Linked DNA regions of Homo sapiens. The protein of the gene in region 5 interacts with the protein of the main gene of each other region in a biochemical or structural test. Each region holds a gene or a part of one and is shown on either strand. Other genes may lie near its edges. The genes, in order: DLG4, PDZK1, GRIP1, GRID2IP, PKN2, HTRA1 and RHOA.

Region 1 (3,500 bases), on a different chromosome or scaffold from region 5:
TGAAGGAATGAAGAGGTCCCAGGCGTGGGGGCCTCTTGGGGGATGCACACACCTCAACACACACGCATACAGCACACGCACAGGCACACAAACGGCGCACGCACGCACACACACACACAGCACACACACAGGCACGCATGCATGCACACACGCACAGGCACACACACAGCACACGCGCACAGGCACGCGCGCACACACACATTCTTGCTTTAGGCTTTACATCCACTCCCATTGGCCTGGCCTGTTTCTCCTCTGTGGGACCAAGGTGTTTCCAGCCCCACAAACGCCCCCTCCCCCAGACCCCAGGAGCCCAAGCCCCAAACCCCCGCCCCCAGTCCCAGCATCCCCCTCCCCACGGCTCTCTCTCACCCTACCGGCCCTTAGGGATTGCTGCAGCTCCGAGGCTCCGAGGGCCGCACTGGGGAGGGGGCCACCAGGGTCTCCTACCTTGAAGGGGGAGAGGTGGGCGTGGCCCACGACCCCGTGGCCAGCCTCGAGGTGGGACAAGTTCCTCTCCGCCACGTGCACCAGCTCGGGGGCGTTTACCTGGTTGGGGAGGTGGGCCGGGCTGTGCTCCAGAGGGGGCGTGTCTTCATCTTGGTAGCGGTATTTCTGGGGATGGGGACGGAGGTGTCACTGGGGCCAGCCCGGTGCCTCAGGCTCCAGGCTGGCCGCCCTGGCCGCCGCCTCTTCCCCCAGCCAGTGCAGTGCGGAAGGCCCTGGGGCCTGACCAGCTCCTCCCCCTCCCTCTCCTCTAGCCCATTGGCTCCCCTCTCTCCACTCTCCCAACAGCCCCCTCTCCCGCCAGGGCCTCAGCACCTCTCATCAATCCCCAGGTCCCAATCCCATCCCCCAACTCCTACTCCTCACATCCTGGGACACTGGCCTTCTGGTGGGCATAGCCCCTCTGGCATCTGTGTCTTCACCCCTTTCCCCACCACCTTCATCTTCGAGTCCCTCCAGCTTCTCAGAGCTCTAGCCCCGACACTCACATCTCCATTCTCTGCCTCCAGTCCCCAACTTCCTTGCTTCTCTCACCATCTCAGACTCACTCTTGTTCTAGCCTCCCCTCCCCTACCCCTCTGGCTGCTCCTACTCTGCATGGCATCCTCCCCGCGCCCCACCTCCATGGCCTCAGTCTCCCCATTGCAGCCTCTACCCCACAGGTGATTGGCTCTCCTTTACCTTGCACTCCTTAGGCAAGGACTGAAGTCACCCCTTCCACCAGAAGGTACTTGGTATCAGCCCCCGAGACAGGACAAGGCTAAGCCTGTCCAGTTCACTGCCCTTGCTGGTTTCCAAGCAGTCAACAGAGGGGCCCCGGGAGTCTGGCCCTACCCCTGCAACAGCCCACAGCCCAGCCAGCTAATCCGGTTATGCTATAAGGGCATGGGCTGGGGGAGGAAGGGGAAGAACAGAGACAGCAGGGCTCAGGACAGGGGCAAGAATGGGTGCCAGCCTCCCTGGTTGGGGAGGAGGGTAGCATGCTGAGCCTCAGAGTGAATTTCTGGTCTCCCTCTGCTCTTTTGGGGTGAAAGGCCCAACATGACCCCTGACTCCCTGCCCAGTTAATCAGCTGCCATCCCAAGGGCCTCCTGTGCTAGCTTAATAGGGACAACAGTAAAATGAGATTAACTGGGGGCCAGAGAAGGAGGAAAAGGGCAGATGGAGACAGCAGAAGAAGACAGCGTTTCTGCCTGGGTCCTTCCGTGTCCGCCTCTGCCCTCGCCTGCTCCTCTCCTCTGGAACGGGCCTCCACAGAGACTGACCCTCCAAGCTCCAGGTTCAGGAAGGGGAAGGTATCATACGCAGGGATCCCTCAGGAACTGAAGAAGACAGAATGCACCGCCCAGTACACATGGGTAAAAAGAGAAGGCACGGCAATCCCAGCACTTTGGGAGGCTGAGGCAGGCAGACAGCTTGAGCCCAGGAGCTGGAGTTGGAGACCAGCCTGGGCAACACAGTGAAACCCTGTCTACAAAAAATACAAAAATTAGCCAGGCATGGTGGTGCACACCTGTAGTCCCAACTGCTAAGGAGGCTGAGGTGGGAGGATTGCTTGAGCCCAAGAGGTGGAGGCTGCAGTGAGCCATGATCACGCCACCGCACTCCAGCCTGGGCAACAGAGTAAGACCCTGTCTCAAAAAGAGAGAGAGGCCAGGAGCAGTGGCTGATGCTTATAATGCCGAGGTGGGTACATCACCTGAGGTCAGAGACCAGCCTGGCCAACATGGTGAAATCCCATCTCTACTAAAAATACAAAAATTAGCTGGGCGTGGTGGCACATGGCTGTAATCCTAGCTACATGGGAGGCTGAGGCAGGAGAATTGCTTGAACCTGGGAAGCGGAGGTTGCAGTGAGCCGAGATCATGCCACTGCACTCTAGCCTGGCGACAGAGTGAGACTCCATCTCCAAAACAAAAAAGAGAGAGGGCGAGCAGAATTTCCCTCCCAAAAGTTTCTGAGAGGCTGAGAGTGCCCTAATACTTAGAGGGCAGCAGCTGCGAGATCAAATGGGAGGAAGCTTATCAAGGTCAATGGCCAATCCTTGAGTAGGATTCTGAAAATGTTAAAGATGATGAATCAAGGCTGAGAATATAACACAACTTTGGCTGTAGAGTAAGGGTACAGTAAGAGAATGGGAGAAGGGAAGTGGTCCTGTCAGCACGAAAACTCTCAAACCCAGAACACAGAGACAACTCAAATCAAGAAGCACCCTGATACATTTAAAGAGTCTTAAAGAAGGAAAACGGGCTCAGCAAGATTGAGTCTATTCTCTGGGCCACAGACTTGGAGAGAATCCTGAACTCCAGATTTCAATCCGATGGGCACAAAAAGTAGAGAAGGAAAATAGGAGAACACACAAAATAGCCCTCCTCCAAGGCTGAGCTGTCTTGAATAAAGGAGTTCTATGAACCAACAGAGACTGTTCATTCCACATCCTGAGAAGGTGGTCTTCTACCTGGGCAGTGCACAAGCTGAGGGGCAAGCCCCAGAATTGAGACCTGGGGGAAGGGGTGGAAGCCGCTCTCCGCTATCCACTCTTCCTTCACAAGGCCTCCAATTCCCTGCAAGGTAAATTAGGACCAAAGCTCCAAGTTTTGGAGTCTGGGGGAGGGTTTGAGTCCAGTGCCTCTCCATCTTCACTCCACCTCAGAGAGAAAATTCCTGAATCTGAGGAGGAAATGTCAGCGTGCACCCAAAGAAAATGGAAACATGAGGAGGGCCATTTCATCATTTATTCTAGGGAGGAAATGAAGGTAAACTTTTATCTCAGCGAGCCCCCAATACCTCTCCCTGCCCCACCCCCATGGAGGGAGGGTGGTGTCTGGCACTGAAGAAAAGGCTCCTCAGGATTGGGAGGCAACATGGAGAAAATGGGGAACAAGAAATGGGTGCCAGGGTTTCCAGAATGTGGCTGGAAGAGGTTAGGGACTAGGTTCAGTCTCTGGAAATTTTCGACGTACATGTAGGGGGGCGGGGAGAAACGTCGGGAGGGG
Region 2 (2,942 bases), about 57 Mb from region 5:
TATCAAGCATAGCTTGGTATTTATTATGCTTGTGTGATCTAACATCAGTTAGCATCCCACACCTCCTCATCTGATCCTGCCCCATTAAAATAACCAAGAAAGAGGTTATCTGTTCTTTTCCGGGAAAGGGGTGGTATGCACCTGAAATAGATTTTACCAAAAGAGAGATTTCAGGTATGTCATTTTTTCTTGATTTCCTGTGAACTTAGTATTATACCCTACTTTCAATTCGGTAGTGATGTTTCCTTTTTTTTTTTTCTATCTGCCCCTCACGCTGTGGGGTGAAACCGTGAATAACTTAACTGGGGGAATAAGTCACTTGTGAAAGGGAAATGTTGAAAAATTTTTAGAACACTCAGACATGCAATTTAAGAAAATTCTGAATTTTATTACTAAGGTCTTATTCTGTACTTTATTGTGTTTTGGGTTTCTAGAGGCAAATGAAGGTTAAAGCATAAAAAGTGAATCCAAAACAAAAGCACTATCAAGCATACTCAAAAGGCATTTGTTAATGGTATTTATTCTAGCAACCACAACATTGTTACAAAAGCACAATTTTAATAGGCTTATCTGCTAAGATGCTTTTATAAGCAGCTGTCACCTATACAGAGTTATGAATCATCTTTGGTGCTCAAGGAACCTGTAGAAGTAAGAGACATCATCATACAGAGAAATGTAGTTAAGTTAAGTTGAAGCTTGGAAAAGATCACATGAAAAAAATCTAGCTCTTGCCTTATCTCTTCCTAAGTTAAGCATAAATTAGCCGTCTGCAATAGCCGCCTGTAAGACAAATGATAACAGAAGACAATCACACATGGTGAATGGTTTCCAGTGGAGTTTTTCTTCTAAAGAGACAGTAAACAGGTCACAACTCATTCCTTGAGAAAGGATTCCTATTAAATACCCAGAAACAGCTATCAAATAAACAGCCAAAGCTATTACTTGTTTTCATCACATCTCTGTATCTTCAGAATTGGAAGAAGAATGTGAGGCTGTACTGTGGGCCTGTGTATAAGAAAACAAAGAATTTACAAATGGTAGAGTAATGAAAGAGGGATGATCTATTCTAGAGTTGCATGACTTAAGTCGGGGAGTAGAGTCACTCACTAGAATTTCTTTCTTTCACAGCATGCAGTTGACAGCAATTGTGTAGAGCTGATAAATCAAGTAAAAAGTTTATCAGTATTGTAATGGGAACCCCCAGAAGAGCCTGAATCAGATGATCTGGGTATGACTAGAAGTCAGGTGACCTGAATTCTACACTTGATTGTTTTCAACTTGCTGTTTGACACATTAACAAATTCCTTAATGTCTGTGTATATTTCTTTTTTATAAGACTAGGATATTGACTTCCTAAAGAGAAATTACAGAATTTTTAAATGACAACTAATACAACTAATAGTATTTATTAAGCATTCCTGAATACAAATCAGTGGGCATTGTGTGTGTTCATTAAACTGAGTTTATTAAAATGAATATTCCACCCATTAGCAGAATTAATATAATGGAAAGAAGAACAACATTGAATTAAACTTTTTTAGAGTCTCGGCTTTGCTATAAATTTCCTTTATGAACTTGGATAAGTCAGTTTACTTTTCGACCTCAAGTTCATCTATGAAAAATTGGGCAAAAATATAAAACTGAGACTTACCAAGAAATTTAATCCAAATATATAGAGAATAATATAGAGAATGCTTAATCTTTCCTAGTAATAAAACTGGATTACCTGTCAGTTGTTTTAAACAATATTGTCTTTAACCGTCACCACTTACATGCTCACTATGAGCCAGCCACTATTCAAAGCACTTTAATATAGTTAATCTTAGTTAACATGATCCTGATAACAATCCTACAAATTATTCCTGTTTTATGGGTGGGAAAACTGAGGAACAGAACAAATAAATCCATTTCCCCACAGCTGACAAATGACAGAACCAGAATTCATATCTAGATCATCCGATTCAGGCTCTTTTGGGGGTTCCCATTACAATACTGATAAACTTTTTACTTCTTGATTTATTAGCTCTAGACAGTTGCTGTCAGCTGCATGCTATGAAAGTAAGAAATTTGTTGTTCTTATACTGCCTCCTGTCCTCTACAATAACTTGATTTGTTAGTTATCTTTACATTTTCATTTTCTAGTTTTAAAAAAATCTGTGGCAAACATAGACATTAAATATACTCATAGGGACTGTACCCATACTCTAGTAAATTAGATCACGAAAAGAAATAGGCCCCCACTCACCCGTTCTTTTGCCATGTGCGAGTCATGGTTTGACTCCACCACTATTCCTTCTTTAGAATCTGGAGGGGTGTCAAGTGGATCAGCCAGGGAGGAAACAATAGGGATTTTCTTAGCTTGGAAATAATCATAGGCCTTCTTTCCACAGACTAGAAGTGTGACATTCTTCCCACTGCTCTGGATTCTATCCACCACCTTCTCATAGGGTTCATCTAGCACATTCACCCCATTCACTTCAATGATGACATCCTCATCCTCTAGCCCAGCCAAGTCAGCAGGACCGCCCTTCTGTACCTGTGAACAGAAGTTCTGAGTTATCAATTTCAAACAGAGAAGGGGACATCAGACTAGCTCTCCTTAAGAGAATAGATGAGGAGCTCAAGAATTTATTTTTAATCATGTTATTATTTCTCCTTGAGGTATAGAAGTTGAGAAAGGTGTTCTAATGCTTTTATATTTATGAAGGCTATAACTTCCATATTCACATGATTAGTGGTATTATAAATAGTGGTTCAGCATCATATGTCTTCTGGGATGAAGGGGGATAAATAGGTCCCCCTTCTTCACTCCCAACTTGAAAGCTTTAGGGATTCTTATCAGTCCCTACAGGGTAAGGGGCATTATGCCAAATGCACAGAAGCAAACAAATATGACTGCCAATCAGGGTTGATAGTGACTGTCAACTAGAGTTCAGTCAACT
Region 3 (3,500 bases), on a different chromosome or scaffold from region 5:
AAAGGGAACAGAGAGAATGTGCAGGGGCTTCCTGGAACAAGGCAGAGAGCCTGCTGAGAGGCTGGAGGGACAGGTTGGAGAGATAAGCTGTATCTCACAACATAATATTGAATAGGAAAAATAAAAGTGTGGTTCTATGCCTTGCTTTTATTTTTGTTTTAATTTTTTTTGAGACGTAGTCTTGTTCTATTGCCCAGGCTGGAGTGCAGTGGCATGATCTTGGCTCACTGCAATCTCCGCCTCCTGGTTCAAGCGATTCTCCTGCCTCAGCCTCCCGAGTAGCTGGGATTACAGGTGTGTGCCACCACGCCTGGCTAGTTTTTGTATTTTTAGTAGAGATGGGGTTTCGCCACGTTGCTCAGGCTGGTCTTGAACTCCTGACCTCAGGTGATTTGCCCACCTCAGCCTCCCAAAGTGCTGGGAATATAGGCCTGAGCCACTGCACCCAGCTGTGCCTTGCTTTTAAAAAGTCAACCTCACAAGCACAATCTGGAGAGATGCAGTTTAACTGAATATCACGGGTAAAGAAAAAAAAACACATTCACAAGACTTTGAGATCTCGGTAAACTGTAAGCGCAAAATGAGTGACAGATGTGCCATGACCACTAAAATTCTTATGTTGAGGTAGGTGTCATTGATCAGTTCTCCTGTCTTCAATGATGCCAGTGACCAGCTTGCTTTGCTCCGGGCTGTCGGGCTGTTGTGTGATTTTCCTTTCTGAATGTTACACTTTAACGGGTACACAGGTAAACTGAAGCACATTCGTAAGGGAGGTCCACAGGACGATACAGATACTCGTCAGTAAATTATAGAAGACACAGTTAAAGGAACTGGGGCTATTTTGCTTGGAGAAGGAAAGCCTCAACAGAGACCCAATAGCTGTCTTCGAGTATCTAAGGGGCTGTCAGGAGAAGAGGCTTTAGTCTAGTGCAGAATGACCTTGAGGGTATAGCCGGGACTATTAGGCATACTGCAGCTCAATACAAGTGAGAGCTTTAGAGTCATCAGAGCTACGTGGAGATGGGGGGCTGCCTCAGCACAAGGAACAACCTGTCACCTTGGGCATTCAAGTCCATGCAGCGTGTCTTGGCGTGCAGTGAGGCAGGACCTGGCACCAAGGGCTGCACTGGACATCAGACTAGCTGACTCCTAAACCCTTTCCAAACCTGAAATCCTGCCTTCAGCTCCCATGTTCGTCACAAGAATTAATGGGGATTAGTTATGTGAAAGTGCTTTGTAAACTCTAGAGTGTTCTATATATATAAAGGGTTATTACTATTTTTTCATTACCTTGGAGTACTTCGATTCTATCCTGATTGCCATTGTCTCTACTTATCCCTCAGTTCCCTTCAACCTCATAAAAATGTCTAAATTATAAATGCAAAATGTAATATTATGACTATGATTCAAAATTTCAAAATGCTTCACAAATAGTAAATGGTTTTTCATCTTTTACTAGTGAGGGGCAGGTCCTATATTCAGTTTGCTTCTCATGGTCCTGTGTCTGTGGTTTCAAGGGATGGAGTAGCTAAGGTCTTACAGATCACCTTACAGGGAAGAACTAATTAATATCAATAGCACCCTCACAAAAATCTCTGGTAACAAAAATATCTCTACATTAATAAGCAATACACAAAAAATACACAAATAAATAACCAATACACAATAAATTGATAAATAAACCTGAGTCTACTCTGATAGAATGTGACTTCTGTCCTTTACTCAGTGTCTTCTGGTGGCCCATCAATTCTCAGGCAATCAGAAGGTCTGTTATTTGGTGGCATAGGTGAACTTGTCACAAGGTATTATGACTTGGAAAAATTAATTGCCAGATAAAGCCCCAATTCTACTTAGGTGTTCAAAGTATTTTCCCCACCTAACTCCAGTATCATCTCTAATGAAAGTAACAACTTGACAACTTTGAAATATCATCTCCTTTCATTTTTTTTTCCAGTTTTTTCTCCCTTCCATTTTTGTTTTTTGTTCACCAGAGGACTTAACAGAGAGTGACACAACATAGGCAGGCTGAGAGAAGGAAACTAGGAAAACCAGGAGAGAGCAAACTGGATACAGACACTCCTAAAAAGTACAGTTAACTCAGTGACAAAGCAGCCCTCACACCAATGTGTTCTCTAAACTGTTTATGTGTTTTATTATTTGACTGACTGAAACCCAGAGCAAACAAGGGATTCAGAGGCTGGAATTTACATAGAACATGAGAGAAGGTAAGGCTCAGATGAGGAGAAATACCAAGAAGTTTTGACATACTTCTCTTGTTGATGCTACGGATCACTGGGAAGAAAATATTTTTTAAAAGAAGCTATTAGTTTATGCTCTGTATTCAGTCTGACACCTTTTATGTGTTTATATTCCATGAGTGAGGCTTTTTAATGTAGATAGTATTTCTTCACATGACGATGACACCTATGAAGAAAAATCTACTCTATACTTTCCTATATTGTGATTATAGTGCTCTAATTATAAACATTCAGGGAAAGGGCATGGTGGCTCATGCCTATTATCCTAGCACTTTGGGAGGCCAAGATGGGAGGATTGCTGGAGGCCAGAAGTTTGATACCAGCCTGGAGAACATGACAAGACCCCGTATCTACAAAAATTTAAAAATCAGCTGGGTGTGGTGGTGTGTGCACATAGTCTCAGCTACTGAGGAGACTGAGGCAGCAAGATCCCTTGAGTCCAGGAGTTTGAGACTATAATGAACTATGATGGTGCCAGGGTATTCTAGCTGGGGTGACAGAGTGAGACCCAGTCTCTAAAAGAAAAAAAAAAGTCAGGAGTGTGCAGGAATAAATAGAGTCACAAATCATTGGCTAATCTCTTATGCACCTCTTCCAAACTCCCCAATCCATCTTTGTGGAAAGCTTGCTGAAAAATAAGGCAATGGGGCCTGTATTGAACGAGCCACTTTATTGTATGGTTTGCCTCACATTAATCTAAGCTTGAAGGACAAGCCCTGGATGGGATACTTGGCCATCAGTAGACCTAATGGAGGCCTGTTAGTGTTTGGTAAAGGTTCATGCCTTATAAGCACTAGAAGAAAATGCATGGCCAGCAGAGTGTAAGTATTCAATGTGTTCAATATGATTATGGCTGCACCAAAGCAGACACAAGTTAAAGAAAGATATTCTCCTCATGGAGCAGAGGATGAATCTTGGAGAAGCATGGGCTTCAACAATGACAAGTCCTCTGGGGGACAAAGTAAAGACATACCTTGAGTTCCATAGCTGGTGTCTATTGCAGACCCATCCCATGAATCCACAGCACTGTCCACACTGGGCACCGTGGAGGGGTACATGTCGGAGAGCTTGCCTGGCTTCTGTGCTGGTGAGGAGTCCTCCTCCACATCCCCCAGGTCACTCAAATGGCTAGAAATAGGGAACTTCTTGGGGCTCGATGCTGACTGGGCTTTATAGACAGGAAAGGAGTTTAAGTATCAGAGTAAATTTAAATAAAAATATACCAAGATACTCCGTGGCTAG
Region 4 (4,223 bases), on a different chromosome or scaffold from region 5:
CCCATCTCTACTAAGAATACAGAAAAAAAAAATAGCTGGCCATGGTGGGGTACGCCTGTAATCCCAGCTACGCGGGAGGCTGAGGCAGGAGAATCACTTGAACCCAGGAGGTGGAGGTTGCAGTGAGCCGAGATCACACCACTGCACTCCAGCCTGGGTGACAGAGCGAGACTCTGCCTCAAAAAAAAAAAAAAAAAAGTCTATGAGCTTAAGTGTCCCAGCCGCCAAGCAAATACTGAGTTTCCAGGCTTCATGTCCACAGGGGTCCGATAGCCAGGCAGGGGTAGGGACTGAGTGTCTTGGCTCCGGACTATTTCCTAGTCGCACACAGGATCACTTTTTGTTCCATTCAAGTATTAGTGAAATAAAGGCCTTAGGACCCCATCTGAAAGCCCTGGAGGACAGGAGTGAAGGTGAATGGCATGGGAGGTTGCTGTACTGGGACCTAGTCAGTGGCCTGGGGTAGCTGTAACCATACTAGGCAGCTTCTTCTTTTATAACCATGTCACGTCCCAGGTTTCTTGGAATTGCCTGGATCTGTCCAGTAAATGGCAGGTTCCTGCAAATCAGGGGTTGCTTGGGATTCAGGCCTGAGACCGACTCTATCCTCCCTCTTTCCATCCCAGCCCTGGGTCTCTAAATGGTGCCTCCATCTTGGCTTGTGGCCACACCCTACTTCCTGCAGGTGACTCAGGCCTTGGGTTCTTCTTGTGGCTAGAGGTCTGATCCATTCCAGGCTCCTCATTCTTAATCTTCAGGACCACGCTAATATTCCACCTGCAGTCTATCACAGCCTGGTTTGTGCCAAAGTCAAGAGGAAATGCCTTTGGCAGATTGGTGAAGCCAAACTAGGGCCTCCTGCAGCCAACAAGCCAGCCAGGCCGCTGTGCAAGGGCAGGTCTAATCCTGGTTTTGTGGGGGCTTAGAACAGGCGGAATTCTTTTACATTTTTTTGGAGGTGGGGAATGGCGGGGAGGGGAATGGAGTCTCACTCTGTCACTCAGGCTGCAGTGCAGTAGCATGATCTCAGCTCACTGCAACCTCCGTCTCCCAAGCTCAAGTAATCCTCCCACCTCAACACCCTTGAGTATCTGGCACCACAGGCGCGCGCCACCACACCTGGCTGGTTTTTTTTTTTTTTATATTTTTGATAGTGATGGGATTTCACCACATTGCCCAGGCTGGTCTCAAACTCCTGAGTTCAAGTCATCAGCCCTCCTCAGCCTCCCAAAGTGCTGGGATTACAGGCGTGAGCCACCTCACCCCACTGGCTCTTTTACACTTGATCTTAGATGAAGGGCCAAGAAGCGATATCTGTGGCTCTTTTTATTTTATCTTTTTATTTTAGAGATGCGGTCTCACTCCGTTACCCAGGCTGGAATGCAGTGGTGCAGTCATGGCTCACTGCAGCCTCAAACTCCCAGGCTGAAGCGATCTTCCTGCCTCAGTCTCCTGAGTATCTGGGACTATAAGGCATGCACCACCATGCCAAGCTAGTTTTTGATTTTTTTTGTAGAGATGGTGTCTCATTACGTTGCCCAGGCTGGCCTTGAACTCAGGGTCTCAAGTGATCCTCCCACCTTGGTCTCCTAAAATGCTAGGATTACATCTAGCACCTGGCCTGCAGTTAAGTTCTAATGGGGAGGATAGACAGAGAAAGGGGCACGTGGGAACATTCTGGTGTCAATTATTCTATAGTCTACATTATATTTTTATCTATATCCTATTATTTTATATATTGATCAAGAGGGTGGTTATTCAAGGGTGCATGTATATGGAAAATTTATTGAGCTGCACACTTAATGCACTTTACACCTATAGTACCTTAATAAAAAAGAAACACAAGTGAATAAAAATTGCAAAATTAGGCCGGGCGCAGTGGCTCATGCCTGTAATCCCAGCACTTTGGGAGGCAGAGGTGGGCAGATCACTTGAGGTCAGGAGTTTGAGACCAGACTGACCAACATGGTGAAACCCCGTCTCTACTAAAAATACCAAAAAAAAAAAAAAAAAAAAAATTAGCTGGGTGTGGTGGCAAACGCCTGTAATCTCAATTACTGGAAGACTGAGGCAGGAGAATCACTTGAACTTGGGAGGCAGAGGTTGTACTGAGCCAAGACCTGGCCACTGCACTCCAGCTTGGGTGACAGAGCGAGACTCTGTCTCAAAAAAAAAAAATGCAAAATTGTTTGCAAGGTTTTGAAGTTGAGCATTCCCATATTTCTGTTAAATCTGACCCCAGAAGTTTCCTTACCTCTGGCCCTGGGAGAGCGGCGCCCGGCCCACTCCCTGCCCACATTATGAGCCCCCTCCTTCCCGCCCCCACCTCCCACCCCCGCGCCTTACCTTGCGGCTGAACTCTTGGGCCTTGCGCCTGCGCTCTCGGTGCACCGCGTCCGGGCGCTTGCGGCCGGCCAGGCGAAGCAGCTCACGGCCCAGAGCTAGGCCGCGGCCGCACCGCGGGGCCCGCAAGACTGTGGTCGGGGCCGCGGGGCCGGATCCTGGGCCGGGGCCACCGTCGGGAGCCGGGAGCACGCCCAGACTGGGCGGCACACGTGGGCAGCGCCGTGCCAGGCGCACGAGGCGCTCGCGGCTCAGACCGCCCACCGCCAGCCCCTCCACCTCCAGGATCTGGTCTCCTGGCCGCAGTCCTCCGGCATGCGCGCTGCTCCCCTTGGCCACCTCCAGGACGAAGCAGGGGCCAGAGCCACCTAGCCGGAAGCCAAAGTCCTCTGGCCAGCCCTGGTTCGTGGCCGGCGTGGCAGTGGTGGCCATGCACCTAGAACTGGAGACAGAACAGGGATTTCCTTGCTGCTCTGTCCATGGCTCCAAAGCCACTCAAAGGCCCAGGGCCACTGAAGGCCTCTACTTATCTCTGCCTCCTCCCTCTGACTCCGTCTTTGTCTCAATTCCCTTCCATCTATGTTTTTTTGTTTTGTTTTGTTTTTGTTTTTTTAAGACAGAGTTTCGCTCTTGTTGCCCAGGCTGGAGTGCAATGGCGTGATCTCAGCTCACCGCAACCTCCGCTTACTGGGTTCAAATGATTCTCCTGCCTCAGCCTCCTGAGAAGCTGGGATTACAGGCATGTGCCACCAAGCCTGGCTAATTTTGTATTTTTAGTAGAGACGGGGTTTCTCCATGTTGGTCAGGCTGGTCTCGAACTCCTGACCTTAGGTGATCTGCCTGCCTTGGCCTCCCAAAATGCTGGGATTACAGGCGTGAGCCACCGTGCCTGGCTTGCCTAATTGTTGTATTTTTAGTAGAGACAGGGTTTCACTATGTTACCCAGGCTGGTCTTGAACTCCTGGCCTCAGGTGATCTGCCTGCTTGGCCTCTCAAAGTGCTAGGATTACAGGCATGAACCATCATGCCTGGCTTGTTTTTTTGTTTTTTGTTTGTTTGTTTGTTTGTTTTTACTAAAAACAAAATTGGGGAGGGGGTGTAAAAGAAAAATGGCCCTTCCTTAAAGTCTTCTTTTGAGTGCCTTGGATTTTTAACCAATGCGGCCACATCCTTTTCCATGGGCCCCTCCTGCTTCCACAGGTCTGTTTTACTGTCTTACATGTACACTTGGCTTCCATGGGCCCTCCTCACTCCCTACACTTTAATCCCTCTTCTTACCCCTCTCCATCTACCAAAATTCCCTTTCGGGATCTGGCATGAATCACAAACTTACGGAAGTCCAGAATGTTGGAGCAGAATGGTCCCTCAGAGACCATTCATATCTTTGGGCATTTATTTTATTTTATTTTATTTTTGAGACAGAGTCTTGTTCTGTCACCCAGGCTGGAGTGCAGTGGTGTGATCTCGGCTCACTGCAACCTCTGACTCCTGGGTTCAAGCGATTCTCCTGCCTCAGCCTCCCGAATAGCTGGGATTACAGGTGTCCACCACCATGCGCGGCTACTTTTTGTATTTTTAGTAGAGACAGGGTTTCACCATATTGGCCAGGCTGGTCTCCAACTCCTGACCTCAGGTGATCCACCTGCCTTGGCCTCCCAAAGTGCTGTGATTACAGGCGTGAGCCACCGTGCCCAGCCTCTTGGGCTTTATTTTTTAGAGGCAAAGTCTCACTCTGTCACCCAGTCTGGAATGCAGGAACACCATCATATCTCACTGCAGCCTTGACCTTCCAAGCTGAAGTCATCCTCCTGCCTCAGCCTCCTGAGTAGCTGGGATCACAGGCGCATACTACCATGCCCAGCTAATTAAAAAAAAATTTT
Region 5 (3,500 bases):
TGAGACAGGTCTCAATTTAGAAGTTTATTTTGCCAAGATTAAGGATATACGTGACACAGCCTCAGGAGGTCCTGACAACACGTGCCCAAGGTGGTTGGGTTACAGCTTGGTTTTGTACATTTTAGGGAGACATAAGCCATCTATCAATACATGTAAAAGGTACATTAGTTGGGTCCAGAAAAGATGGACAACTCGAAGTAGGGATTTTCAGGTCACGGGTGGATTCAGAGATCTTCTGATTGGCAACTGGTAGAAAGAGTTTATCTAAAGACCTGGAATCAATACAAGGGAGTATTGTAAGAGTGCTGTTAAGATAAGGGGTTGTGGAGACCCAGGTTCTCATTTTGTAGATGAAACCTCCAGATAGCAGGCTTCAGAAAGAAGAGACTGTAAATGTTTCTTATCTACTGAAAGAGTCTGTTCAGTCAGTCTTAAGGTCTCTGTTTTGATGTTAATGCTGGTCTGCAGTACCTGAATTCCAAAGGGAGGAAGGCATAATGAGGCATGTCCAAACCACCCATTCCCAGCACGACCTGAACTAGTGTTTCAGGTTTACTTTAGAATGCCATTGGCTGAGAGGAGGGGGTCCATTCATTTAGTTGGGTGGCTTAGAATTTTATTTTGGTGTACAATATATTAATGAAATAGACACCTCAGGGGTAATACATGAGAAAGAATAGTCTCTACAAAATAGATTATAAAAGTTACTAGGCAAACAACTACATTCAACATATAGCAGAAAAATGAAATCTTTGGAAAGAGTAAAATCTGATTTGTGAGTAAGTATACTAAGGAAATGAAGTACTTGAATTATGAAGCAAGCACAGTAACAGAATACGGTCAGTTCACAGAAAAAAGAAATTAACAGAAACTGACCCTGGGGAAGTCAAGACATGTTGGACTTACTAAATTAAGATGCTCAAAAATCTAAAAGAAACCATGGACAAATATCTAGGGGAAACAAGAAAAGTGATGTGTCTACAAATAGAGAACATCAATATGGATTTAAAAATTATAAAAAAGAACCAAACAGAAATTCTGGAATTGAAAAGTATAACAAAAATGAAAAAATTTGCTAGAGAGGTTCAATACAAGATTTGAGCAGGCAGAAGAAAAAGTGAGCCAATTTGAAGGTAGATCAATTGCACTTGTCTAGTCTTAAGAGCAGAAAGAAAAAATAATGAAGAAAATCAGAGTCTAAGAGAAATACCATAAAGCACACCAATGTAGGCAAAAATCAAAGTCTCAGAGGGAGAAGAAAGAACATTTGAAGAAATGATTGGAAACTTCCCAAATCTGATGAAAGACAAGAACCTACACATCAAGCTCAAAGAATCTAAGTAGAATAAATTCAAAAAGATCCACTCTAAGACACATTATAATTAAACTGTGAAAAAACAAAGAAAAGCTTGAAAGCAACAAGACAAAAATAATTCATCACTTACAAGGGATCCTCAGTAACATTAACAGTGGATTTCTCATCACAAAACATAAAGGCCTGGAGGAAGCAGGAGGACTTTTTTTTTTTTTCTTAAGACAGAGTCTTACTCTGTCACCCAGGCTGGAGTGCAGTGGCATGATCTTGGCTCACTGCAACCTCCGCCTCCCGCGTTCAAACGATTCTCCTGCCCCAGCCTCCTGAGTTACTGGGATTACAGGCATGCGCCATCATGCCTGGCTAATTTCTGTATTCTTAGTATAGATGGGGTTTCACCATGCTGGCCAGGCTGGTCTCAAACTCCTGACCTCAAGTGATCCACCCGTCTCGGCCTCCTTAAGTGCTGGGATTATAGGTGTGAGCCACTGTGCCTAGTTGGACATTTTTTTAAGTGCTGGAAAAAAACAAAATTGCCAGCCAAGAATTCTATATATATACCAAACTATCATTCAAAAAAAGAAAAGAAAGAGATTCCTAGATAACAAAAGCTAAGGGAGGTAGACACTAGGAGACCCGCCCATAAGAAATGCTAAAGAAGCCTTTTAGATTGAAATGAAGGATGGGAGAAGTGACGGGTGGGGCGGGGTGGGGGCAGTGTCAGGGAGGGCAAGGGGGAGGGGGTAGGGGGAGGGGGAGGGAGGGAGAGAGAAAGGAAAAAAGGAAGACAAACGCAGGTAAAATTAACTACATAAGTAAATATAGAAGCCAGTATTTTTTTTTTTTTTTTGAGACGGAGTCTCGCTCTGTCACCCAGGCTGGAGTGCAGTGGCACGATCTCGGCTCGCTGCCAGCTCCGCCTCCCAGGTTCACGCCATTCTCCTGCCTCAGCCTCCTGAGTAGCTGGGACTACAGGGGCCTGCCACCACGCCCGGCTAATTTTTTTTTGTATTTTTAGTAGAGATGAGGTTTCACCATGTTAGCCAGGATGGTCTCGATCTTCTGACCTCGTGATCCACCCGCCTCGGCCTCCCAAAGTGCTGAGATTACAGGCGTGAGCCACTGCGCCTGGCCAGAAGCCAATATTTCTGTATTTTAAGTAACTCTTCTTTTTGTTTCCTTTATGATTTAAAAGACTAATGCATAAAACAATATTTATAGCCTATGTTAATGGGTATATGGTGCATAAAGAGAGTTTGTGACAATATAACAAGGGCACAGTCAAAGAGTTTTTTGTAGGCTACTAAAGATAAGATTATAATAAATTTAGGACATTAGTTATAATCATTGGGGTAATCACTAAGAAAATAATAAACCCGCACATGGATGTTTATAACAGCTTGATACATAACTGCCAAAACCTGGAAGCAACCAAGAAGTCCTTCGGTAAATGAATGAATAAATAAATTATGGTACATCCACACAATAGAGTATTATTCAGCACAAAACCAAAAATGAGCTATCAAAGCATGGAAAGACATAGAGGAAACTTAAATGCATATTACTAAGTGAAAGAAACCAATGTGAAAAGGCTACATACTGTTAAGATTCCAACTGTATGACCATTGTGGAAAAGGCAAAACTACGGAGGAAGTGAGGTGAGTGGTTGCGAGGAGTTCAAGATTTAGTGAAAGACCAGGCATAAGTAGCTCATGCCTGTAATCCTAGCACTTTGGGAGGCCAAGGTGGACAGATTGCTCGAGCCCAGGAGTTGAAGACCAGCCTGGGCAACACAGAGAAACCCCATCTCTACAAAAAAAATAAAATAAGCTGAGCGTGGTGGTGTGCACCTGTACTCCCAGCTACTAGGGAGGCTGAGGTGGGAGAATATATATATCTATCTATCTCATAAAAGGGAGCAAGAAGGGAATAAGAAAAGTAAGAATAGAGGCTGGGCATAGTGGCTCACGCCTATAATCCCAACACTTTGGAAGTCTGAGGTGGGAAGATGACTTGAGGCCGGGAGTTTGAGACAAGCCTGAGCAACACAGTGAGACGCCATTGCTAGCAAAAAACTAAAAATTAGCTAGGTGTGGTGGCACGTTCCCGTACTCCTAGCTACTCAGGAGGTTGAGGCAGGAGGATTGCTTGAGCCCAGATGTTTGAGGTTACAGTGAGCTATGAT
Region 6 (3,500 bases), on a different chromosome or scaffold from region 5:
AGTGGCGGTGAAAGCTTCGGAGGTTATAGGAAAAAGGAAGGCTCTCTTTACTTGCGAAACAATTCGATATGAACCACGGCAGGGGCGATCTTCTCCACCACGTCCGCGATAAAGTTATATTTATGGCGCAAACTGTTGGGATCTTCCTGCCCTGAGAACAAAAGCAAAGAATAGATACTTAATGACACTCTGCTGTGGCCACCTAGAGAAAGACATGGGTTAGAGGAAGCCAAGATGCATGCCCAGCCTTTGGAATTCTGAAGGCGGAGTGAGCGCAATTCCCCCACCTGGGCTCAGCTGCAAATGTCCATCCACCTCCCAAGGGAGTGCCCACCCAGGTAAGGCAGTAAAATCCACTAATGATAACCTCTTTGCTCAGGTTCACCACAAAAACGTTGAGCAGAGGCACCAGCAAATGCTTCAACCTCACACCAGCCTTTCCAAGAAGCTGATGGCCCAAGTTTGTTTTTTGTTTTTTTTCAGTTTATTTTTAGATGGAGTCGCACTCTGTCACCCAGGCTGGAGTGCAATGGCGCAATCTTGGCTCATCACAACCTCCACCTCTCCGGTTCAAGCGATTCTTCTGCCTCAGCCTACTGAGTAACTGGGATTACAGGCACCCACCACCTTTGTATTTTTGTATTTTTACTAGGGACCGGGTTTCACCACGTTGGCCAGGCTGGTCTCGAACTCCTGACCTCAGGTGATCCACCTGCCTCGGCCTCCCAAAGTGCTAGGATTACAGGCGTAAGCCACCACACCCAGCCAAGGGTCCCTTTTTGATGTGGCATCACCCTCTGCCTGCGTCCCTTCCCTGAGTCCCCACCATTACAAAGAAGCAACAACCCTCCTGAGAAACACCGCAGGAGCAAAGAGCACCGGGGCTTTTTCTAGGAGAGGCCCACCAGACGGGTACATCTGAGATTATTACGAAGAAACACGAAGGCAAAGGGGCAGCTCCTATCTTTCCCACTGACACCCCAAGGCAAGCTGAGGCCATCGTCTGTCCCCAAAGCAGTTTCCGCCATGCCTTAACCACACGTTCCAACCCTGCCCGGGACATCCCAGACAAAAGGCATAAGAGGTGCCTTAAGACTGTGGGTGAGAAAAAGAGAAAAATCAAACAACTGTAATGCTTTATACCTACAGTCATGCACCACATAACGTTTCAGCCAGCCGCGGACCATAACACCATTGTTTTTACTATACCTTTTCTATGTTTGAATACACAAATACTCACCATTGTTACAACTGCCTACAGTATTCAGTACAGTAACCTACTGTACGGGCGTGCATCCTAGAAACAACAGGCTCTGCCATCTGGCCTAGGTGTGGAGTGGGCTCTGCCATCTAGGTTTGCGTAGGCACACTCTGTAACATTCCCACAGTGATGAAATCGCCTAACGACGCATTTCTCAGAACGTATCCCTGTTGCTCAGTGATGCATGACCGTTTATATTACAGTGAGTGGCCCCACGTGGTGGGCGTTTCCAAAGCTACTTTCAACAAAGCTGTCACATGTCCCGATGTGAGGCTCTCACCCAGCAGGGCTACAAGTTAGTTTCCATCAACCAGAGGCACATACCCAAGGTAACTGATTCAGAAACGGACTGCTAGAGATTCAGGGTCCTGGGCTCCCATTTTCGTGGCACGGGTGGTGGCAGAGGCAGTGTGTCCCTGGAAGTGCAGCCTTAGCCTACTACTCCGGCTCCTAATCTTGCCACCTGCTGCTACCTCTTAACAAGTCTCTGCTAAAGCAGGCTGGAGAGGTTCCAGGCTGGTCTGCAGCTGAGAGCCATGCACCCCATTCTTCCCCCTTGGACTAGCTCAGCGTTGCACAAGCAGGCTCCAGGGACCCGCACTCCTCTGCTAGCTGCTCACTACGAATTGACAGGAAGCTTTCGGAAACTTTCATAGCAATTTCACATGGTAATCTTATGTCTGTTGCACTGAAAAATGAGTAACTGGGGCTTGTATTTCCTGTCTCACATTTTGTATTTTGTAGGTATTTTGTGTCTCATTTACCAACAGGCCTGTGTGCCTGCCCCTAACACACATGCATATATACACAGAGATGCAAATGCACACACACACACAAACTCACACATACACACTATGCATACACACCCACAGATGTACATGCATAAACACACCCACACATACACCCACATTTACACACAAACTGTCACATAAACACCTATACACACTTCCACACACATTCATATACTCACAGATGTGCACATACATACAGTCACACATATATACATGCAAATGCACACATACATACAGACGCATACACACACACACACACACGCCTCTCTCATCACTAGAGTGGCAACCCTTCCCCAGGCTCTAGGCTATAAGTAAAAGCTGTGAGACGTCCCAGCCCTCTTGTGACCCGTCACAGCTTCACACCCACTGGTTCCCACATCCCTGCTGCACTGGGTCACGAAGGGCCATAGTAACCCAGCTTGACACCATGGGGCACAGGGACATCGGGAGGACCACCTGCCTCTCCCACGCTTGCTTTCTTGGAAGTGAGAGCGCTTCTGTGAACAAAGGGCCGTTTTCTGTCCTAGCCCCTGACCTCTGAGTTGCTTTATTTAAAGATTGGAATCATCTCCTTTTACATAGCATGGTTTTTTTCTAAGGTACAGAAAAAGATCTGCAACTACTTGGAAGAATAATTTAACAAATTCAGAACAGTATCATATTATTATTTTTGCTTTCAAAACCCTTTCATTGGCTGCCTTAATTTAATTTTTTCTACCTTCATGTGGAATAGGAAAATCAGGTATCCTTCCCATATTATATATGGGGAAACTGAGGCTCGCAGACTTTAAATAACTTCTCCATGGACACTGAAGTTTCTTAATAGAGAGTATAAGTAACAGATCTGGGCAAGCCCTCCCAAGCCCACAGTGTCACCAGATCTACAGCTTCTCACTTCAACACTGGCCTCCTACAGATCTGCTACCCTCCTAGGTTTCCAGGTAGTTGCAAATAATTGGTGTGTCCCCCCGAGCACTCCAATGGGAGGTGTAAATAAGGGAATGGAAATGTTCCTTCTGAAAACAGAGCCTGGCGAATGTCACCAGACAGCTGTAAACAAACGCATCTGGGCTTCCTCAGACCAGCTTCCTGGGGAAAGGCCAAGAAGAGGTTTAACTCCAGCCAGGCCAGAACACAGAGACAGCGTGGTGTTTCAGAAACTCTCACAAGAAGGACCATTACCAGCGCCTTCCCACTAAGGATCATTAACTCACTTCCTCTTTCTGGCTTCCTGAATTAGGTATGGGAGAATTTGCCCACACCAGGGGCAAAAATGAAGATGGATTGAAGGTGGATTTTGCTGGGTAAAATGAGAGGCAGTTCCCTTCTCACACAGTCACATAAAGTGGTTCCAGGGTCTTCCCACCAGGAAAGCAACAAGGGAGATCAAGGAGGATCTGGCCTGGCCACTGGAAGGCCCAGTTCCAGCCTCAGTCCACTGAGCAGCC
Region 7 (3,500 bases), on a different chromosome or scaffold from region 5:
CAGTTACTTGGGAGGCTCAGGTGGGATAATCCCCTGAGCCCTGGAGGTGGAAGCTGCAGTGAGCTGAGATTGCATCACTACACTCCAGCCTGGGGAACCCCAGTGAGACACTGTCTCTAAAAAAAGAAGGAAAAGAAAAAAAAAAAAATCAGCCAGTTGTGGTAGCATGCACCTGTAGTCCCAGCTACCAAGGAGGCTGAGGTGGGAGGATTGCTTGAGCCCAGGAGGTGGAGGATGTGGTGAGCTATGATTGCATCACTGCACTCCAGCCTGGGTGACAGAGTGGAACCTTGTCTCAAACTCTTATGACTCAACTACAAAAAAGCAGCTTAGGTTGGTGGTCTGGCTCAGGATCTCTTGCAAGGTTGAAATCATAAAGAACTCTTTTTGGGCTGGGCACGGTAGCTCACACCTGTAATCCCAGCACTTTGGGAGGCTGAGGCAAGCAGAACACTTGAGGTCAGGAGTTCGAGACCAGCCTGACCAACCCAGCAAAACCCCGTTTCTACAAAAAATTCAAAACTTAGCCGGGTGTGGTGGTGGGCACCTGTAATCCCAGTTACTCGGGAGACTGAGGCAGGAGAATCGCTTGAACCCAGGAGGCAGAAGTTGCAGTGAGCCCAGATTGTACCACTGCACTCCAGCCTGGGCAACAGAGCACTCCAGCCTGGGCAACAGAGTGAAACTGTGTCTTAAAAAAAAAAAAAAAAAAAAAGAGAGAACTCCTTCTGACATGAAGTACGCTATTTATCTATCCATCTATCTTTTTTTTTTTTTTTTTTTTTTTTGAGATGAGGTCTCACTCTGTCACCCAGGCTGGAATGCAGTGGCGTGATCTTGGCTCAATGCAATCTCCACCTCCGAGGCTCAAGTGATCCTCCCACTTCAAATTCCCCAGCAGCTGGGACCACAGGCATGCGCCACCACGCCCAGCTAATTTTTGTATTTTTGGCAGAGACAGGGTTTTGCCATGTTTCCCAGGCTGGTCTCCAACTCCTGAGCTCAAGTGATCTACTCGCCTCGGCCTCCCACAGTGCTGAGGGATTACAGGCGTGAGCCACTGCCCATCTATCTACGCATCTATCCAATCTATGTACCTATCTAACCTATCTATGTGTTTCTCTATTATGTAGTTATTTTCAGAAAGGGTCTCATTCTGTCACCAAGGCTGGAATGCAGTGGTGCAATATTGGCTCACTGCAGCCTCTGCCTCCCAGGCTCAACTCAAGCGATCCTCCCACCTCAACCTCTCCAGTAGCTGGGACTACCAGGCTCCTGCCACCACAGCTGACTAATTTTTATACAGATAGCGTTTCACTATATTACCCAGGCTGGTCTCAAACTCCTGGGCTCATGCAATCCTCCCGATTCAGCCTCCCAAAGTGCTGGGATTACAAGCATAAGCCACCTCCCCAGGCCTAAATACAGTATATAGAAAAAATTAAAAAATAAAGAACTCTTACAATTCAATAATAAAAAGACAAATAATCTAATCCAATTAAAAAATGAGCAAAGGATGTGAGTAGGTATGACCCTGCAATTCTATTCCTAGGTATATATCTAAGAGAAACAAAAACATATGTCCACATAACAACTTGTACCTCTACATGAATATTCATAGCAGGATTATTCATAATATATTGTCAAAAAATGTAAAGAACCCAAATATCCAACAACTGATGAATATAATATATCCATACAATGGAATGGAATATTATTCAGCGATAAAGGATAAAGTACTGATATATGCTATAGTATGGATAGATCTTGGAAATGTTATATAAGTGAAAGAACCCAGTCACAAAAACCAACATGCATGATTCCATTTATATAAAATTGTCCAGAATAAACAAATTCAGAAAGAGAAAATAGACTGGTAGTTGCCTAGGGCAGGGACTTGGGGGTGGAGAGAAATGGAAAATGACTAATGGAATACTGGAGTTTCTCAGGTAAAAAGATTTTTCCAAAATTATTGTGGTGATGGCTGCACAACTCTATGAATATACTATAAACTATTGATTATAGTATATATAATTCACACATTTTATTTATTTTGAGACAGGGTCTCACTCTGTTGCCCAGGCTGGAGTATAGTGGTGCGATCTCCACTCACTGCAACCTTAGCCTCCCCAGGCTCAAGTGAACCTCCAATCTCAGTCTCCCAAGTAGCTGGAACTAAAGGTGCATGCCACCACACCCGGCTAATTTTTTGTATTTTTAGTAGTGACCGGGTTTCACCACGTTGCCCCAGCTGCTCTCAAACTCCTGAGGTCAAGCGATCCTCCTGCCTGTCTCTCCCAGTGTGTTGGGATTACAGGCGTGAGCCACCGCACCCAGCCCACAGTATATATAATTCACACTTTAAAAAGGTGAATTGTAAGATATGTGGATTATATTTCAATAAAGCTGTTACCACCACTCTCGCCCCCAGTGGGGGGAAAAAAGAGAGAAATCTGCAGATTCCTTCCATCTGGCAGACAGTGATGGTCAACCATCCCAATTCCCGCCCTTCCCTCCTAGACCATACTTCGATTTTTAGCTATGTACTTTGTTGTAGACTACACTTCCTAGCTTCCCTTGGAGACATGGCCATGTACCATGAGATGTGAGAATCAGCAGTATGTTGTGGGACTTCCAGAAAGTCTTTCTTAAAGGGAAGTCTTTATTATCCTCCTCCTTTCCTGCTGCTTAAATCTAAAGTAAGGGCTGGTTTCTAAGCAGCCATCCTGGTATGTGAGAATGAATGCCATACCGTGGGGCTGGAAGAACCAAAAGGTAAAAAGGAGCCTGGATCTCAGGTGATCTTGGGAGCCACCATCTCAGCCCCAAGACTGCCTACCTTCCATGTTTCTTCCATATGAATGAGAAATAAATGACTGTCTTATTTAAGGTGGTATTTTTCAAGTCTCTGTTACCTATAGTCAAACTAATCCTAAATTATATACACTCAGCTGGGCATGGTGATTCACGCCTGTAATCCCAGCACACTGGGAGGCCGAGGCGGGCAGATCACGAGGTCAGGAGTTTGAGACCAGCCTGGCCAACATATGAAACCCCATCTCTATTAAAAATATTAAAATTACCCAGGCGTGGTGGGGTGAGGCAAGAGAATCGCTTGAACCTGGGAGGTGGAGGTTGCAGTGAGCCAAGATCATGCCACTGCACTCCAGCCTGGGTGACAGAGACTCTTGTCTCAAAAATAATAATAATAATAATAATAATAATAATAATAATAATAATAATAAATACTCATTATCAAAACTATATTGTCTAAAGGGTATGTTCCCCAACCAGAATGGATAAGACAATCCACAGGGGTACCAGAAGAAAACTCAGAGGGCAAACAACGACAAAAATAAACAATGAAAACAAAACAAAAAAACTCAGAGGGCTGACAGTGCTGCCATTACTCATTTGTGAATTCTCAGGACAATATTACATACAGCAGTGAATACGTGTGTGTGTATATATATAGATACAGATATTATAGAATTTTATCC

What was found.
Region 1: the proteins of PKN2 (region 5) and DLG4 interact in a test that uses a peptide from one of them, tested with the Homo sapiens proteins (one large-scale study listed by IntAct).
Region 2: the proteins of PKN2 (region 5) and PDZK1 interact in a test that uses a peptide from one of them, tested with the Homo sapiens proteins (one large-scale study listed by IntAct).
Region 3: the proteins of PKN2 (region 5) and GRIP1 interact in a test that uses a peptide from one of them, tested with the Homo sapiens proteins (one large-scale study listed by IntAct).
Region 4: the proteins of PKN2 (region 5) and GRID2IP interact in a test that uses a peptide from one of them, tested with the Homo sapiens proteins (one large-scale study listed by IntAct).
Region 6: the proteins of PKN2 (region 5) and HTRA1 interact in a test that uses a peptide from one of them, tested with the Homo sapiens proteins (one large-scale study listed by IntAct).
Region 7: the proteins of PKN2 (region 5) and RHOA form a complex in vitro, tested with the Homo sapiens proteins (2 studies listed by BioGRID, with this or other methods).

What each region holds. Positions count from the first base shown.
Region 1 is NC_000017.11:7,207,628-7,211,127, forward strand, and holds part of DLG4 (disks large homolog 4), read right to left. Parts: intron 613-3,500; coding exon 547-612; intron 1-546. UniProt on the Homo sapiens protein: Postsynaptic scaffolding protein that plays a critical role in synaptogenesis and synaptic plasticity by providing a platform for the postsynaptic clustering of crucial synaptic proteins.
Region 2 is NC_000001.11:145,670,485-145,673,426, forward strand, and holds the end of PDZK1 (Na(+)/H(+) exchange regulatory cofactor NHE-RF3), read right to left. Parts: intron 2,537-2,942; coding exon 2,246-2,536; intron 1,156-2,245; coding exon of another isoform or gene 1,123-1,155; exon of another isoform or gene 1,006-1,122; coding exon 952-1,005; 3' UTR 781-951; coding exon of another isoform or gene 760-780; 3' UTR 501-759; downstream 1-500. UniProt on the Homo sapiens protein: A scaffold protein that connects plasma membrane proteins and regulatory components, regulating their surface expression in epithelial cells apical domains.
Region 3 is NC_000012.12:66,389,077-66,392,576, forward strand, and holds part of GRIP1 (glutamate receptor-interacting protein 1), read right to left. Parts: intron 3,427-3,500; coding exon 3,232-3,426; intron 1-3,231. UniProt on the Homo sapiens protein: May play a role as a localized scaffold for the assembly of a multiprotein signaling complex and as mediator of the trafficking of its binding partners at specific subcellular location in neurons.
Region 4 is NC_000007.14:6,548,662-6,552,884, forward strand, and holds the start of GRID2IP (delphilin), read right to left. Parts: upstream 2,801-4,223; 5' UTR 2,776-2,800; coding exon 2,347-2,775; intron 1-2,346.
Region 5 is NC_000001.11:88,774,773-88,778,272, reverse strand, and holds part of PKN2 (serine/threonine-protein kinase N2), read right to left. Parts: intron 1-3,500. UniProt on the Homo sapiens protein: PKC-related serine/threonine-protein kinase and Rho/Rac effector protein that participates in specific signal transduction responses in the cell.
Region 6 is NC_000010.11:122,485,553-122,489,052, reverse strand, and holds part of HTRA1 (serine protease HTRA1 precursor), read right to left. Parts: intron 152-3,500; coding exon 52-151; intron 1-51. UniProt on the Homo sapiens protein: Serine protease with a variety of targets, including extracellular matrix proteins such as fibronectin. HTRA1-generated fibronectin fragments further induce synovial cells to up-regulate MMP1 and MMP3 production.
Region 7 is NC_000003.12:49,377,477-49,380,976, forward strand, and holds part of RHOA (transforming protein RhoA isoform 1 precursor), read right to left. Parts: intron 1-3,500. UniProt on the Homo sapiens protein: Small GTPase which cycles between an active GTP-bound and an inactive GDP-bound state.